Regions from separate parts of the Homo sapiens genome. Here region 2 is linked to region 1. Evidence: fine-mapped expression QTL. A gene starts in region 1. The other region holds a variant in brackets. All regions are shown on one strand. Distances are from middle to middle.

The links.
Region 2: its variant is fine-mapped to the expression of DPYSL4 in lymphoblastoid cells (GEUVADIS, PIP 0.95).

The regions. Positions count from the first base shown.
Region 1 is chr10:132,185,249-132,188,142 of GRCh38, forward strand. It overlaps DPYSL4 (dihydropyrimidinase like 4), which reads left to right and starts at 1,700. Exons shown (of 14, transcript NM_006426.3): 1 at 1,700-1,854. The coding sequence starts at 1,816. JAKMIP3-AS1 (JAKMIP3 antisense RNA 1) reads right to left here and starts at 1,504. Exons shown (of 4, transcript NR_184044.1): 1 at 1-1,504. RefSeq lists an enhancer at 2,419-2,894.
Region 2 is chr10:132,152,946-132,155,839 of GRCh38, forward strand. JAKMIP3 (Janus kinase and microtubule interacting protein 3) reads left to right here. Exons shown (of 24, transcript NM_001323087.2): 17 at 13-78; 18 at 814-882; 19 at 968-1,045. Among named protein-coding and RNA genes, the nearest start is that of JAKMIP3-AS1, 32 kb to the right of the region's middle. The variant T/C (reference allele first, on the strand shown) is at 1,333.

The sequences.
Region 1 (2,894 bases):
CTGCTGGCTCGGGCCCCGCCAGTACTCGAGGTCATGGTGACTCAGTGGCCAAACTCTGGCTTTGAAATGCGGACTGCGGTAACAACGCAAAGGCCTGAAGTCTCTGGGTTCGAATTCAGCTGCTGCAGGCTGGGTAGAATGACAGATGGAGTGACAGCATCGCCCGTCACTCCTGTCTCGCCCCAAGCCTCTAACTCGGCTTTAAGGGAGATCAGCAGCAGTTTGCGTGGGCGGGTACACCCCACCCCCGCGCGCCCTCCACACTCGCCCAGGGTTTCGGAGTCAGGGCTTTCTTGTCTGGCGTGGGACGGCCCAAGGGGCCTGGAAATGTGGCCGGGATTCCCACAGCGGTTTCTCCGGTGCGCGCTCCCCGCCCGGCCTTCCCAGCGCCCAGTGTGTCCCGAGGGCGAGCAGCCACGCGTGGCCGGGACTAAGCGAGCACCCAGGGGCCAGAATGGGGCGTTCAGCACCCGCTACGTGGACAGAGCCAGCTCCGCGCAGCGCTGCCGGGCGGCAGGAGGCGGGGGGGGAGGGCGCGGCCTCCAGGTCCGCCCAGTGCACCTGCCGCGCAGACCTCGCTACAGGAGGCTCCGAGACCGGATTCTGTCGCCCGCTCCTGCCGTGACCGCGCGGCAGCCTCAGGAGCCCGCGAGGCCTCTGGCCCGGCCCAAGCTTGGCTGCGTGTTCCGCTGCGTGGAGGACGCCTTCGAGAGCAAGACGCTGCCGCTGGACGCTCTGGGCGGCGGCCGCCCGGGCCCTCGGGTTGGGAGGCGAGTCTGCGCGGCGCGCGGAGACCCCTCAACGGCCGCAGCAAGTCCCCGAGGGCAGCCCGGCGTGGCCCAGGCCCGGGACCCCCAGCAGGTAGTGGCCGCGGGACAGAGGCCGTGGGCCCGGGCTCGGACTCCCCGAGACCCTCGCACCCGGAGGACGCCGGGCGTGGGGCTCCCCCGCTCCCCCCTGCGGGGTCCTCCCTATCCGTAAAGGTCCTGAGCCTTCTGGGTCCTGCGACCACCCCCCACCCCCGCGAGGTCCCGCCCACCACCGCGTCCCGGTCCCTGGGGAGCGCGTGCGCCTCCTTCTGTCTCTCTCTCTCTCTCTCTCTGTCCTATTCGGGCCCCTCCTGCCCTCCGTCTCTCGCGGCCAGCGTGGAACAGCCTCGCGGGGTCACAGCCTGGCGCTCGGACCCTGGCCCGGGTCATCTGCGAAGGAGCCGGCTTTGGCCAAGGTGCCTTCCTGGACGGGTGTGGTTCCCAGAGCGTCGCGGCCCGGGGTTGACTGGCTCGGAATCCCGGGGCCTTGGGCGCCTCGCGTCTCCTGGGACCTGGGTTCCGCGCTGGAGGGCAGCGGGGGCGCGGGCGGGGCCTGGCAGGACGTGGCCGGACTCTCTCCCTCGCCTCCCCGGGGTGCAAACCCCGCGCACATCAGCTGGAGCAGGTTGAAATCCCCACCCAGCGCTCGTCCGCGGGTCTGCGCGGGGGCCCGGGGTGCAGAGATCAGACCCTGCAGCGGTTCCAGCGCTGGGGGGGCTTTAAAGCGAAGGAGTGGCTGAGGGCGGGGGCGGGGCTGATGGGCGGGGTGAGGCGGGGCTCGGGCTGGGGCGGGCCCTATCGGGGGCGGGGCCTGCCGGGGGCGGAGCCGGGGTGGGGGCGGGGCCCAGCGGGGGCGGGACCGGAACGGAGCCGTGCGGCCCCGCGCGCTCGCAGTCTGTCTCCCGCCGTCCCCACGCACGCGTCCCGGCTCACGCGTCCCCCCGCCCGCCCGCCCGCCCGCCCGCCCCCGCTTGTGCCGCCCCTACCAGAGACCCCCAGGAGCAGGATGTCCTTCCAGGGCAAGAAAAGCATCCCCCGGATCACGGTGAGCCCGGTCCCGCTTCGCCCGGCGCCCCCTGCCCGCCGCCCGGAGTGGGGCCTGGACGCCGGGCGGACCCTCCTGGTCTTGTGCGTGGGTGGGGGGTCCCTGCCTTTGCGTCTGGTCCCTGTCCTGGCGCCCGCCCTTCCCTGCTCGGCTCCTTCGCGCCCCAGGGTCCGAGAGTCCCCGCTAGCGCCGCGCAGACCCCCTTAAGGAGCGGGGCGCCCAGGCCCGGCCCGGCCCGGCCCTGCCCGGCCCTGCCGGGCCCTGCCGGGCCCTGCCCGGCCTTGCCCGGCCTTGCCGGCTTCCGGGAGCCTCGGCTGCGCCCGGGGAGAACCCGGGGCCGGGCGGCCTGTCCCTCGGAGCGCTAGCGGCTCCTTTCTCCCACGGCGGTCGGGTGGCGAGGCGGGCGGACGCGGCCCTTTGTTGGCCCGGGCTGGTCCGGGGCGCGGGGAGATGCCGTTCCCGGCGCAGCCCGTGGGTCGCCCGCCCCTTGGACGCACTGGCGCTGCGTCGGGAGCTCTTTGTCCGAGACAAAGCGATTTAGCCCCGGCCGCTCTGGCCGGAGTCCCTGGTGGCCCCGAACCCTTCCAGTAACCTGGGTTCAGCGACTCCAAGGAAAGCGAGCGGTCAAGGGCCACTGGCCGGGAACCCTGGCAGCCCCTGAACCTTCGAGAGCAGAGACCCCTCCCCAACACCCACACGCACCGGCGCGGGAGGTCCCGCTCTGCCAGAAACAAAGCCTCCCCGCTCGGGCGGGGGGAGATGGGGGTGGGAGGAAGGAGGCTTCGGGACCCGGCAGGACCTGGGCGGGGGAGTCCATGGGGTCCCAGACCCGACTCTGGACTTGGCCTCGGCGGGAGGGCCGTGGGGTCTGACCTCTGGCATTAGCTCGAGCCGTGGGCTGTGGGCTCCACTCCCCCAGACTCTGAGCGAGGAAGGAGCCCTCCCCTCTCCAGATGGGAGGGGCTGCTGCCTCCAGAGGGTTCTGCCCGGCTGGGTCTGGTCTTGATGCAGGAGGTCTTGCCAGTCAGCTGGCATGTGGG
Region 2 (2,894 bases), 32 kb before region 1:
TTTTGGGTGCAGAACCTGACCAATGAGGAGCAGGTGGTTGTCATACAAGCCAGGACAGTCCTGACCTTGGCCGAAAAGGTAACAGCAGCTGTGTGGACAGTCGGGAGAGGGCCGGGCTCCTGGGGTCTCCTGCCCTGCTCAGCTCAGAGGTGGTGATCTCGGGAGGAGGGCCTGCAGGGCCGGGTTTGGGGGGTCCACTAAGCCCCGTCTGCCCTGGGAGATCTGACACACTCAGGTCAGACAGCACCCACTGTGCATCTTTGCAAAGGACAGATTCGGCTCCACTTTGCTCTGTCACCAACCCTGTCTGCGTTTCCTCCCAAAGGCGGGAAGGTATGGTGAGTCTGCAGGCAGCGTTCTCTGTTCAACTTACCCTGACCCCCTTCTGGGGCCACCCAGCCCACTACCTGCTCCTAGTCCCACCCCTAGCCCTGACCTGCCTGGTGAGCTGGGCCTCCCACAGCAAGGAGAAGGGGTGCTCCTGGCACATAGGGGTTTGGAGAAACAGGCCACCCCTCCCCGCCTGTCCTGGCAGAGCTCTGCAGATGTGTCTCTCCTACGGTGCCCCAAGCTAGTGTCCCTCCTCTCCTGGAGAAGGTGTCAGGGGTAGACTTCCTGGACACCTGGAGGGTGGGAGGGGTGGGGCCATGATGCCAGCGCAGCCTCAACTCCCTGGAGAGGGCTGTGCTCTCCCCTCCCTAAGGAGAAGAGGAAGGAAGACCCAGGCTGTCCTGGCTTTTCTCCCAGCTGTCTCCACGAGCCGGGGTGGGGGACCCTAGGGGTCACTGTCCTGCTTGTTCTGTTTGTGTCCAGTGGCTCCAGCAGATTGAGGAGACAGAGGCGGCGCTGCAGCGGAAGATGGTGGATCTGGAGAGCGAGAAGGTTGGTGGCACCTTCACCGAGGTTCTGCGGCTCGGTGCTGCAGGTGGGACATCCGAGACCGAGGCATGGCCCTCCTGTGTTTCAGGAGCTGTTCAGTAAGCAGAAGGGCTACCTGGACGAGGAGCTGGACTACCGGAAACAGGCCTTGGACCAGGCCAACAAGGTGAGAGGCACGAGACTGCTGGAACCCCGGGGAGGGGCACTGGGCTGAAACGGCCACGTGGCTCAGGTGCCCAGCAGTGCCTCAGGTGCCCATGTGGGCCAGGTCGCAGGGCCCCTAATGGCCCCTAATGACACCTGCACAGCAGGCTCTGGCTCTCCAGAGCTGCCTGATGGGGTCTTCACTTGGAGCTTCATAAACGGAGCAGGATTAGTTGAGGAGGCCTAAACCCACACTGTGCAGTGAGAATGTTCTACAGCCTTTGTGCAGGTCACTCAAGCACAGAAACA[T/C]GCCCGGATTCCTGAAGGCCATCCAGGTGTTGGTGTGGGCTGGTGTCTACCTCCCACCCTTCCCCTGAGGAACTGGAGAAACTGGTGGCTGTTCTGGGACAACAGCCTGCTCACTAGTGGGAGGTGTGGTCTTGTTCTATTTCATCTGGTGTGGCTGGGAGGAGCATAGGACGTTTCTAGGTTGAAAACTAGGCTTCAGAACTGGGTTCCCCGCTGGGAGCTACTTCCCCCGTGACTGCACAAGCAAAATCATCTGTCCCTGCTGGACTCCTATCACGTGACGGAAGGTACGACCAGGAGGATATCAGGCCATGTTGTGGAAAGACAAGTGTCACCACCAAGAGGTTCACCTCGGGACCCAGCCCAGCAGGCAGGGTCTTGACCCTCATGCCTGTGAGGAGACCTGCTTGGCTACTCAAAGCAAGGGAAAGTGGGCTGGGATGAAAATGCTCATTCCTGGGGCCAAGTTCAGCCTGGGAACTCTCAGAGTGATAGTGATGATAATGGTGATGATGACAATGGTGGTGGTGATGATTGTGCTGGCAATGGCAATGGTGATGGTGGTGGCGGTGGTGGTGGTGATGGTGGTGATAGTGGTGGTGATGATGATGGTGATGATCGTGATCATGATGACGGTGGTGGTAGTGGGATGGTGATGATGGTGATTATGATGGTGATAATGGTTATCATGATGGTGATCATGATGGGGATGATGGTGATTATGATGATGATGATAATGGTTATGGTGATGATGATGGCAATGATCATGATGACATGGTGGTAGTAGTGGTAATGGTGATGCTGCTGGAGGTAGTGATGATGATGGTGGCGATGATGGTCATGATGATGGTGATGGTGGTGATATGGTGGTGATGATCATGACAGTGGTGGTAGTGGTGGTGATGATGGTGATCATGATGGTGACAATAGTGATCAATGATGATGGTGATGATGGTGGTGGTGGTGATGAGGATGGTAATGATAGTGTTATAATGACAGCCTACTCAAGAGCCTTTCCTATGTGGCAGGCACTGGTCTGGCCAGCCAGGCACAGAAGCTGGTGACCTGCCCAAGGACACGCAGTCAGAATGAAGGCAGGAGTCGAATGTCAGCATTCTTCTCCTGTGCCCACAGCCATGACTGCTGCACTAGGCATCTCTCCTTCCTGCACTTGTGGATGTGAGTTCCTCACACAGAGGGGCCAGGGCTCAAACGCAGAAGCCTACAGAGCAAAGAACAGCCACACCAGGCACCTAGCATCCTGGGTGGGGGTGTAAGGCCCATGTCAGTTGCTGTGGAAGCCAGTGTGTGAGCCATGGGAGGCTTTGGAGGCAGATGACCTGGGTTTGAGGCCCAGCTCAGCTGGTAACCACTAGGGATTGGGAGTTCCTGTAAGATGCTGGGCATGGAGGCTGGCCCTGGCTAAACTGGTAATGGCCCTCCTGTTGCTATGGTTAGTGTCACTATTGCTGACCAGCAGTGTGCACATGACTGCGTGGGAGCAGCTCACAGGTTGCCAGCTGTTCTTCCTGGGCCACTGTCCTCACGGCCTCTGAGTACTG